Homo sapiens: one gene and its partners. The protein of the gene in region 2 purifies or fractionates together with the protein of the main gene of each other region. This does not show direct contact. Each region holds a gene or a part of one and is shown on either strand. Other genes may lie near its edges.

Evidence for each region. Proteins that work in one complex are often made in the same cells at the same time.
Region 1: the proteins of VPS4B (region 2) and ZNF585B fractionate together in Homo sapiens (co-fractionation; one large-scale study listed by BioGRID). This does not show direct contact.
Region 3: the proteins of VPS4B (region 2) and VPS13A fractionate together in Homo sapiens (co-fractionation; one large-scale study listed by BioGRID). This does not show direct contact.

The regions. Positions count from the first base shown.
Region 1 is NC_000019.10:37,181,079-37,183,807, forward strand, and holds the end of ZNF585B (zinc finger protein 585B), read right to left. Parts: 3' UTR 501-2,729; downstream 1-500.
Region 2 is NC_000018.10:63,394,977-63,398,476, reverse strand, and holds part of VPS4B (vacuolar protein sorting-associated protein 4B), read left to right. Parts: intron 1-1,223; coding exon 1,224-1,443; intron 1,444-3,500.
Region 3 is NC_000009.12:77,418,534-77,422,037, reverse strand, and holds the end of VPS13A (intermembrane lipid transfer protein VPS13A), read right to left. Parts: 3' UTR 501-3,504; downstream 1-500. UniProt on the Homo sapiens protein: Mediates the transfer of lipids between membranes at organelle contact sites. Binds phospholipids. Required for the formation or stabilization of ER-mitochondria contact sites which enable transfer of lipids between the ER and mitochondria.

The sequences.
Region 1 (2,729 bases), on a different chromosome or scaffold from region 2:
GGTGTGTACAGGTATCTCATTGTGGTTTTCATTTTCATTTTCTTGAAAATTAAAGATGTCGAGCATCTTTTCATCACCTTATTTTCCATTTTTATCTCATATAACAATATGGATAGATCGCAAATACATCACATTAAATGAAACAAGTCCGACTCAAAAAGAGAGATACATACACATATATAAACAGACAGAGACACACACAGGATGTCTCCATTTATACAACATGTGGAAAAGGCAAAATTATACAGACAGAAAATGGGCTTGTGATCATCAAGGCCTGGGGGTGGGCAAAGGGATGGACTAAAAAGTAATAGGAGGAAATGTAGGGAAGTGAGGGAACTGTTCTCTGTCTTGACTGTGGTATTGACTGCATGATGTAATTGTCAAAACTTTGAGAATTCCACACTAAAAAGGGTGAATATTACTGTATGTAAATTATACCTCAATAAATACGACCTTAAAATATTACAGTCATGTTCACACAAAAACCTGCACACAGGTGTTTATAGCATCTTTATTCATAATCAACAAAACTTGGAAGCAATTAAGGTGTCCTTCAGTAGGTGAATGGATAAATAAGTCATGGTACTTCCAGACAATAGCATATTATTCAATGAGAAAAAAAAAAAAAAAAGAGCTAGCAAGCTACGAAAAGACATGGAAGAAACTTAAATCCACATTACTAAGTGAAACAAATCAATCTGAAAAGGCTGCATACTTTATGGTTCAGAGGCAAAATTATGGAGACAAAAGAAAATAGCCAGGAGTTTAGAGGAGTAGGCGAAACACAGAGGATTATTGGGACAGTGAAACGGCTCTTTATCCTTCTGTAATAATGCATACATGTCATTATTCATTTGTCTCAACCCACAGAATGCACATCAAGACTGAACCCTAATTAAACCATGGACTTTGGCCGATAGTGTCAATGTAGTTTCATCAATTGTAACAAATGTACCACTCTGAAGGGGGATGTTGATGATGGGGGAGGCTGTGTATATGTGAGGGTAGGGGATATATGGGAAATCTCTGTACCTTCTGCCCCATTTTGCTGTGAACCTAAAATTTCTCTAAAAACTAGTCTTTTATATAAATGGGCATACATATACATATATATGTCAGCACTAAAATATCACGTTACAATAAATATAAAGGAGAAATTATTGAAAGTCATGTACAGTGAAATGTGTTTTCCTCCATATTTCCTGGAATTCATGAGGAGTGATACACTTAGGAGTAAGGTAAAATGGGAATAATGAAGGGGACCAGACCTTGTTCTAGGGTATGTTAGGAAGGAAGAGGTGATCTCCAGGCACCCTCCTGAGAGTCAGCTGACATTGTCCTAAGTTGGGGATAATGTTGTATCACAAAATATCCAAAACTGAAGGAAGAATAGTGAAGCTTCAGATACAGTGCTGGATGAGGTGAAGGGAGGTAATGGGTGAGCAGACATTGGTCTAAGATGTTGAGCAGCATGTGATGGGCCATCAGATACTGTGAAGAAGTGAGGAAGCAGAGCTAATGATGGCTCAGTAGACATTGATCTAAGGTGAGGTAATGGGATGTGTCACCAAGCACTGCCCAACTAGGGCTTGGGAATTAAAGGGGCATTGTGGCCCTGCTTCTTTGACTATGTTCTATCCTTTGGGCCCCATCTTCACCTCCCCATACTGCCCTTCTTAAAGGTGAAACCATCTTTGCAGAGCCCAAATAGTTCCCACTCCCAGAACTGCCAATAGACTGGCCCCAGACGCCACCCAGCAACTGTGCATCTAATCAGATCATCTGTCAGCATCTGTAAGGCCACTGCTGCCTATCTAGGGCAAGATACCTAATATCCAATGAAGATCCACCCAAGTCTGCTCTAGTTCCCTGCTATTGGCTTCAGGCACTCCTCTCGGGGCAGGATGAGCAGGTGTGTGGATTGGGTTCTGGAGTAAATGCGGCTCTGTCGAGTTGCAACTGAGACAGGACAGCGCTGTGCATGCTGAGGAAAAATGAGCAGGGAGTCTTTTGCAATCATGTTGGAGCTGTGGGATTCTGGAATCATGGCAGGAAATCCTGGAAGCAAGCATCCACATGGGATTTCCTGTACCTGTTTTCCCTTCTTTAGCATCAGACCAAAAGGTTCACAATGACTTTTTAGCTTTAGGGTTGAGAAGGGATACAGCCCAGGTACAGACTAGAGGTGAAAAAGCCTGGTGTGTTTTAGCCAAGTTGGTTCTCCCTATTAGCGCTTCTTATGCTGCAACACAGAAAAAAATCAGACAGAAGTCACGCAACAAGCATGGGTCAACTCTCCACAGGTGCATTTATGGAATGCCTGCTGTATGGCAGTCATGGGTCTAGACTCATAGTGGTGAACAAAAGGGAAATATTTTCTAGTGTAGAAGCCACAGAGAAATGAGGAAAATACACCAGGCAGCATGGTGGAAATTGCTAGGGAGAAGAATAAAGGAGGAAGGGTAAGGGGCTGGAATTTTAAACCAGGCAGGCAGGGAAGGCCTGTGTGGAGGTGTCATGGAAAAAAAGACATGACGGACAAGCCACAGATAAAATAAAGAATTGTGCTCTTTGCAACGGGCACTGCAAATACAAAGGCCCTGAGTCAGGAACTGATGTTTGAGGCACATGGCGGGGAAGGTCCTTGTGGGGTGCGTGGGACGAAGATGGACACAAGTAGACAGTGAACATATGGTGGGGTTGGTTTTCATATGAGTTATCAATTT
Region 2 (3,500 bases):
AAACCAAGGTAGGCAGATTGCCTGAGCTCAGGAGTTCAAAACCACCCTGGGCAACGTGGTGAAACCCTGTCTCTACTAAAATCCAAAAAAATTACCTGGCCATGGTGGCGCACACCTGTCTGTAGTCCCAGCTACTCGGGAAGCTGAGGTGGGAGAATCGCTTGAGCCCAGGAGGCGGAGGTTGCAGTGAGCCAAGATTGTGCCACTGCACTCCAGCTTGGGCAACAGAGTGAGACTCCATCTCAAAAAAAAATATATATATATATATATATGTGTGTGTGTGTGTATATATGTATATGTGTATATGTATATATGTATACACACACACATCTATCTATCTAATTTTTAAGTTGAAAATGAAACTTCAGTTCTAGGAAAGGTATACGGACTCTTCACTTTTCACTCTTCACAGTTCTGTATTACATTCATTTATTTTGTATGGTAAAAATTAGCACTTCAGTTTTTGCCACTTTTATCCCATTCACTTGATGATTTGCGCCAGCATTCTAGCTTACCATCCAGTACCAAGAAAGGAAATGTGCAGGGTATTTTTGAAAAATTGCCTTATTCTGCACCCATCTCTAGAGGCAACGGAAACTTTAAATTCTTTTCATTGTCACAGAGAGTTACCTGGAGAAAAAACAGTCTGCTCAGACCACTTAAATTATCCCTCATCGTTGCTTCTCTGTCTCCAAATACCGAAATTCTAAGAAAGCAAGCAAAATTATTGTTAATGAAACATAGTGTTTATTCTTTATAATATAGGATTGTTCTGGATGTATTCATTAAAGTGGACATTTTGTGTAATATATATCCTATAAGATTGTGAGGTAATTCTGTTTTGAATGTAGAGAATTACTGTGTCATCTCTACTCCTGTTTTATATTGTTAATCATTAGTCCCTTGATCAAGAGTTCAGAGTACAATTTTGTGGGAAACTGTAACCCTGTAGGACCTCTTTTTATTTCATGAATTCCAGACATAGGAACACTGTGGCCAAAATAACCCAAAAATGCACGAAAGATTCAGCCACTTCAAACTGGCTCCCAGGCTATTTTGATTTTATTTGTTTGTTTTTAATGTGTTCTGGATATTATCCCTTTAACCTAAATATATATGTTTAACCTTGGCACATACAGGCCCACTTAACTTAGTATCTGTTTCTTCTTGGAAATATCCTAATTTTCAATTAAATATATTCTTGATGTAATTTCTCTTTTAAGATTTGAGAAACGAATTTATATTCCCTTGCCGGAACCCCATGCCCGAGCAGCAATGTTTAAACTGCACCTAGGGACCACTCAGAACAGTCTCACGGAAGCAGACTTTCGGGAACTTGGGAGGAAAACAGATGGTTATTCAGGGGCAGATATAAGTATCATTGTACGTGATGCCCTTATGCAGCCTGTTAGGAAAGTACAGTCAGCTACTCATTTTAAAAAGGTAAGTCATTTTTATCTATCCTTTCCTATCTTTTTTTTTTTTTTTTGAGACAGTCTCACTCTGTTGCCCAGGCTGGAGTGCAGTGGCACTATCTGGGCTTGCTGCAACCTCCGCCTCCCGGGTTCAAGCAATTCTCATGCCTTAGCCTCCTGAGTAGCTGGAATTACAGGCGTGTGCCACCACGCCTGGCTAATTTTTTGTATTTTTAGTAGAGACAGGATTTCACCATGTTGGCCAGGCTGGTCTCGAACTCCTGACTCCAGGTGATCCACCCACCTCGGCCTCCCAAAGGCGTGAGCCACTGCGCCTGGCCCTTTTCCTGTATTTTTAAAATCAAGTTTCAAGACCGTCATTGGTTTGTCTTCAAAGAATTTGGGAGGATTTCAGTGTTGTATAATAATACCATAAGTGGGTTTACATAATAGACATATTTCTGTGTCACTGAAACAAGTTCTTTAATAAAGTTTATTTATTGGCCATTTTTGGCTGGGTGCAGTGCCCCATACCTGTAATCCCAGCACTTTAGGAGGCCGAGGTGGGCAGATCTCTTGAGCTCAGGAGAGACCAGCCTCAGGCAACATGGCAAAACCCCATCTCTGTAAAAAATACAAAAATTAGCTGGATGTGGTGGCACACTCCTGTAGTCCCAGCTACTTGGGAGGCTGAAGTGGGAGAATCTCTTGAGCCCAGGAGGTGGAGGTTGCAGTGAGCCGAGATTGCACCAGTGTACTCCAGCCTGGGTGACACAGTGAGACCCTGTCTTAAAAAAAGAAAAGGCCTTATTAATCATCCTAATGTGTTTTAAATTTTCCTATGAAATGATTTTTGAAGTATTTGTGTATTATTTTGATATAAGTATAGAAACTTAAATGTACAGATGTAAGGCTGCTTCTGACACATCTAGAATATTTTTGAGTAGAATCTGGTGCATTTATACCTCATAAAGTAAAAATAATAATAGCTAATATCTTTTAAATATTCACATGCCTGGCACTGTGTTCTGTCTTTTATCTTACTATTTCATTTGGTCTTCACAAAAATCAGCAAGAGAGGTACATGTAGCCAGCCACCTAATGGTGGTTAGTCTTGGACGTAGGTGCTAACACAGTAGCTAGAGTGGGACAGACATGTGATTTGCCTGGAGGTGAGGTGTGTTTCCAAATCTGAAATCTCAGCCATTCTGCTATCCTGCCCCTCCTGTGTTCTGTTTTGTCTGCAAGAACAAGTTAAGCATCTGTGGCTGAGATAAAGTTTTATAAGAAGGCTGTGGTCTTGAGATACCCAGTTTGAGTAACAATGAACTAGGTAATCTGGACCAACCCTTTTGCTGTGAACAACAGTATCCAGTATTACTCATGAACATACATGTGAAAAACTATTAGCAAACCTAATCTCATAATGTATGTCAAGACTAATATGACTAAGTCACATACGTATATTTATCATGTACCATAATAAGATTTTTTTAAGTTAACAAGCTTGAATTAAAATCTGAATTTGAAGCCTGGCACCATTTACTTGTTATACCTTTTTGAGCAAATTCTATTACTTCTTTAAAGCTCATTTTTATCATTTCTAAAATGGGGATGTGATAATGCTATTTTGAAGTCCTTTCCAATAATGAAGTGATATAATACTCATAAAACACCAGTCGTGGTACTTCAGATGCGTAGGGAATGTTACTCATCCACCCTTCTTCAGCCATTTCATTACTGAAGTACTGTTAAGTTTATGCCACAGCCATTATGTTTTTTCTTAAATTCTCTTTGCCATTTAGAAACTATAAATGCATAGGAACTCAGTCCTTTCCTACTGAGAGTTTGTCACTCAATTCTGCATATTACTGCCAGGGTGAGCTCACATGACGCTGAAGCCAGGTCCTTGTTAGTGGGATGAAGGTGACACAGCCAGATGAGTTTTATCTCTGCAGCTGGGGATCACCAGCTGCAGCAGACCTCTCAGCGGCTCCATCCTTTACTTCTTTTAAAGCTGATTATTTCAGTTAACAAGAAGAAGATTCCCTGTTTATTTTTTGCATTTACTAGTATTTTATTTCT
Region 3 (3,504 bases), on a different chromosome or scaffold from region 2:
ATGCGGAGTTTTCTAAGGTTAAGAGACAGAATGTCGGTGGTTAAGAATTCACTAGGTCGAGACAATCCTGGCCAACATGGTGAAACCCCATCTCTACTAAAAAAAAAAAAATACAAAAATTAGCTGGGCGTGGTGGCACACACCTGTAGTCCCAGCGACTCGGGAGGCTGAGGCAGGAAGATCACTTGAACCTGGGAGGTGAACGTTGCAGTGAGCCGAGATCGTGCCACTGCACTGCAGCCTGGTGACAGAGCAATACTGTCTGTCTCAAAAAAAAAAAAAAAAAGAGAATTTACTAGGTACTATACCACCCCAAGCTTTTAGTCAGCAATGATCATGCTGGGCTGGAATGTCGCCTGCTTTGACTGAAAAATCAGGACCTTGGGCAATCTGTTATTCACATTTGTTTCAGCCCCAAAGAGGGTGGAATTTATATAGGCAAGGGAAGGGTATTAATAATGTTTCTAGTTCTATCAAAAAACTAAAAACAGAAGCAGACCAAAGATCAGAAATCTTTATTTGACAAAGGTATACATGGTGAAAATGGGCAGTCATCTTACCATGCAATCCAAATCTACCAATACCAAGAAATGCTTATTGTTAAGAAAAAAAATCATTAGTGAGCATGGCCAACCAATTTTTAGAGAGAGGAATAAAAGAATAAGATTAGTTTCAAAAGGAAGAACTTCACTGTAAATATCTGTGTTTATAAATTATCTTAGAATACACAAAACCAAGGCAGAGGCTGTGTAACAGGCAACTGAGCCAAGCACACATAAAAGAGGGATGAGGAACAGAAAAGTGTAGGAAATCCTGCAGCGATGCAGAAATAGATATTTTTAAAATTATCATAATCAATGACCGTATTTTCATCAAAGAAAGAATAAGCATTCCAAAGCAGCACAGGCTATTTCATCAATTTAAAAAACTAGCAAGAGAAAGTATTTTTAAAGTGCACTTTTCCTGAAAAATTCATTTTTATATGTAATACACAGTCACATACAGAGATAATTATTTCTAAAATTCTGTAACAGTTTATCTGACCTTGTAACAAGTTCCAGATACCATTCCTAATAGTTTGTGTGGATATTAAATCATTGATACTGAAAATATTTCAGTGTAATCTATGCTACATTTTTACTTGAATGTTTTTCAGCCTAAGAACTGGGAACTTTTGAGTAACAAACTGAACACCGGAGGTATGACGGCATAACAGGAAATGTTGGGATTTTCCAACATGTTCTATTTTAATTATACTTCTGATTATTTGATATCTCATTATACCAATCTCACAGGGTTTCTTGTTACAAGGACTTCATTAGAAGGAATACATTATTAACATATCAGAGTAACACTAAATGAATAGTTCAATGACAGACAGGGATTTTCTATCATAGCAGTGTGATATCTATCATCATAGCAGGTGTTAAACTATAATATAAATTAATTTGTATTTGTATAAAGTAATAAAAACTTTAAAAATATACCCATATCAACCTAAAAAATTGAAGTTATATTTCTTGTATAGCTTTTTGGGTAACCAAAATAATTTTTTTTTTGAAAATGCCATAATGCTTTAAAAAAAGAACTAATCTGTAATTCTAAAGTAAAAAATTTTTTAAATGACATGGAAAAATTTACAAAAGAGGAAATATAAAGTAGAAAAAGGTTTCAATAAAAGAAACATGAGTGAGGTTTGTAATAGAGTAGGATTCTGCATCTTCTCAATGTGCTGGCCTTGCTTTTTGGATAGTCCTGAAACAAATACTACTTTAGACCAATTATGACAGTGGGAGAAAAGTTTGCTGTAACAGCCAGAGTGGCCAAAAATTGACAGTACAGATTACAAGAATCAAAATTTTAACCGACAAATCCTAGCTTGATTAGGTTGCCATTAACAATAAGGTATAATTTCAAAAGTATACTTCAAAGGACTAAGGAGGGTGAATGGGTTTCCTTTTAGAGTTGCGCTATACTGAAAAGCACCAAAAAAAATCAGATTGACTAAGTCTGTATTGAGTCCTGCATACAGAATGTAAGTTATTTACATTTTCTACTTGGATCTTAAAGAAATGAGGAAATCCACTGTTTTTAGTAAAAAGTCATTGATATTTGCATAGCACCCCCCAGACACTGAATATTTTGGCCCTACCAGAATGTGCCCTACGTATTAGCTCCCCATTTTTAAAGGCCTTTGCCACCTGTATGGTGAATCAGCCAAAAGGTAGATGGTGCAGATTCAACGGACTCAAAAGGACAATGTATGTCCCCAGTTCTATTATAGTAAAATGCTTAGTGGTAAAGAGGTTAAAATACATCTAGGTAAACAAAAGACTATGGCCTTTTTTGGGTGCTGTGTGTGGATCTAATTTTTCTATGCTTTTTCTGGTCCCACTGAATCATGTGAGGTTGCCCGATACACAGCAGAGAAGAAAAATATTTTAGAAACCAAGAGTGATTCCATCTTCTCACTCAAAAGAAGAAGTGCTAAGCATCTCTAGACTTCCTGAGTTGTGGATCTGCTGCTCCTTATCTAAGGTCAGGCTCCACACAATCCAGACTCTTCCAACAATCACTGGATGGCCGGTGCCTCCTGCAGCAGTCTTTCAAGCTTTCTTTTTTTAAATTGCATTTCATAACAGGAAACACTTTATATTGTGACCCAGTATACACAGTAAATAGAATATTTAGCTGAAACAGTATTTCAGGAACCAATACTTAACCATTTTATATGCTCTATTGTTCCTCTATTTTTTATTATTTCACGTTTAAAATATACTGGTCTTGAGCTGTTAAGTTGATTTCATGACCCACTAATGAGTTAGGACTTACAGTGTGGAAAAACAGCATCCCTGAGGATTTGGGTTGATCCTGACAAAAGGTAACAAGCAATGCCCTGGAAGCCGAAAAGATTCCTCTGAACTGTGTTGGCTGAGCCATGAAAGCATCCACTGTCAATGTATTTGGTACACACTTTGAGCTTCTACAGGCAAACTAATCAAGTATTTTGTCCCAATCTTTTTAATACAGAGGCCTACATGAGGGGGCACTTGGCATAGCCTGAAGGATCAACTAATACTGGCAAGTGATAACTGAATAATTTAGGTGCAGGAAATTCAGCACTGTGTAGAGTCCTTTTAATTTAATCTTTCTTTTTACCAGAGAGTAATACGATGCTACTATGTGGGATGTTTCTAAGAGATGAGCTAGGTGCATAGATATTCAATGGAACAATATTACCGCTATTACTATTGGAAGAAATGAGAGAGATAATTATGATAGAAAATATCACGTAAGTAAGTGTAAGAAAGATTTATTCACTTGGAGGCCACAGGATAGTTGCCTCCAAATGGACTAGGATTGTGGAGGAGAGGGGTAGGTAAGAACTGTCTACAGGTGGTAATGATTGTTTAGGGTCCAGATAACAACAACTCAGCCACACTAAACTGACCTTGGGATTTTTGTGAACACTAAAGGAAAAGCAGCAAATATGTATACTCTAAA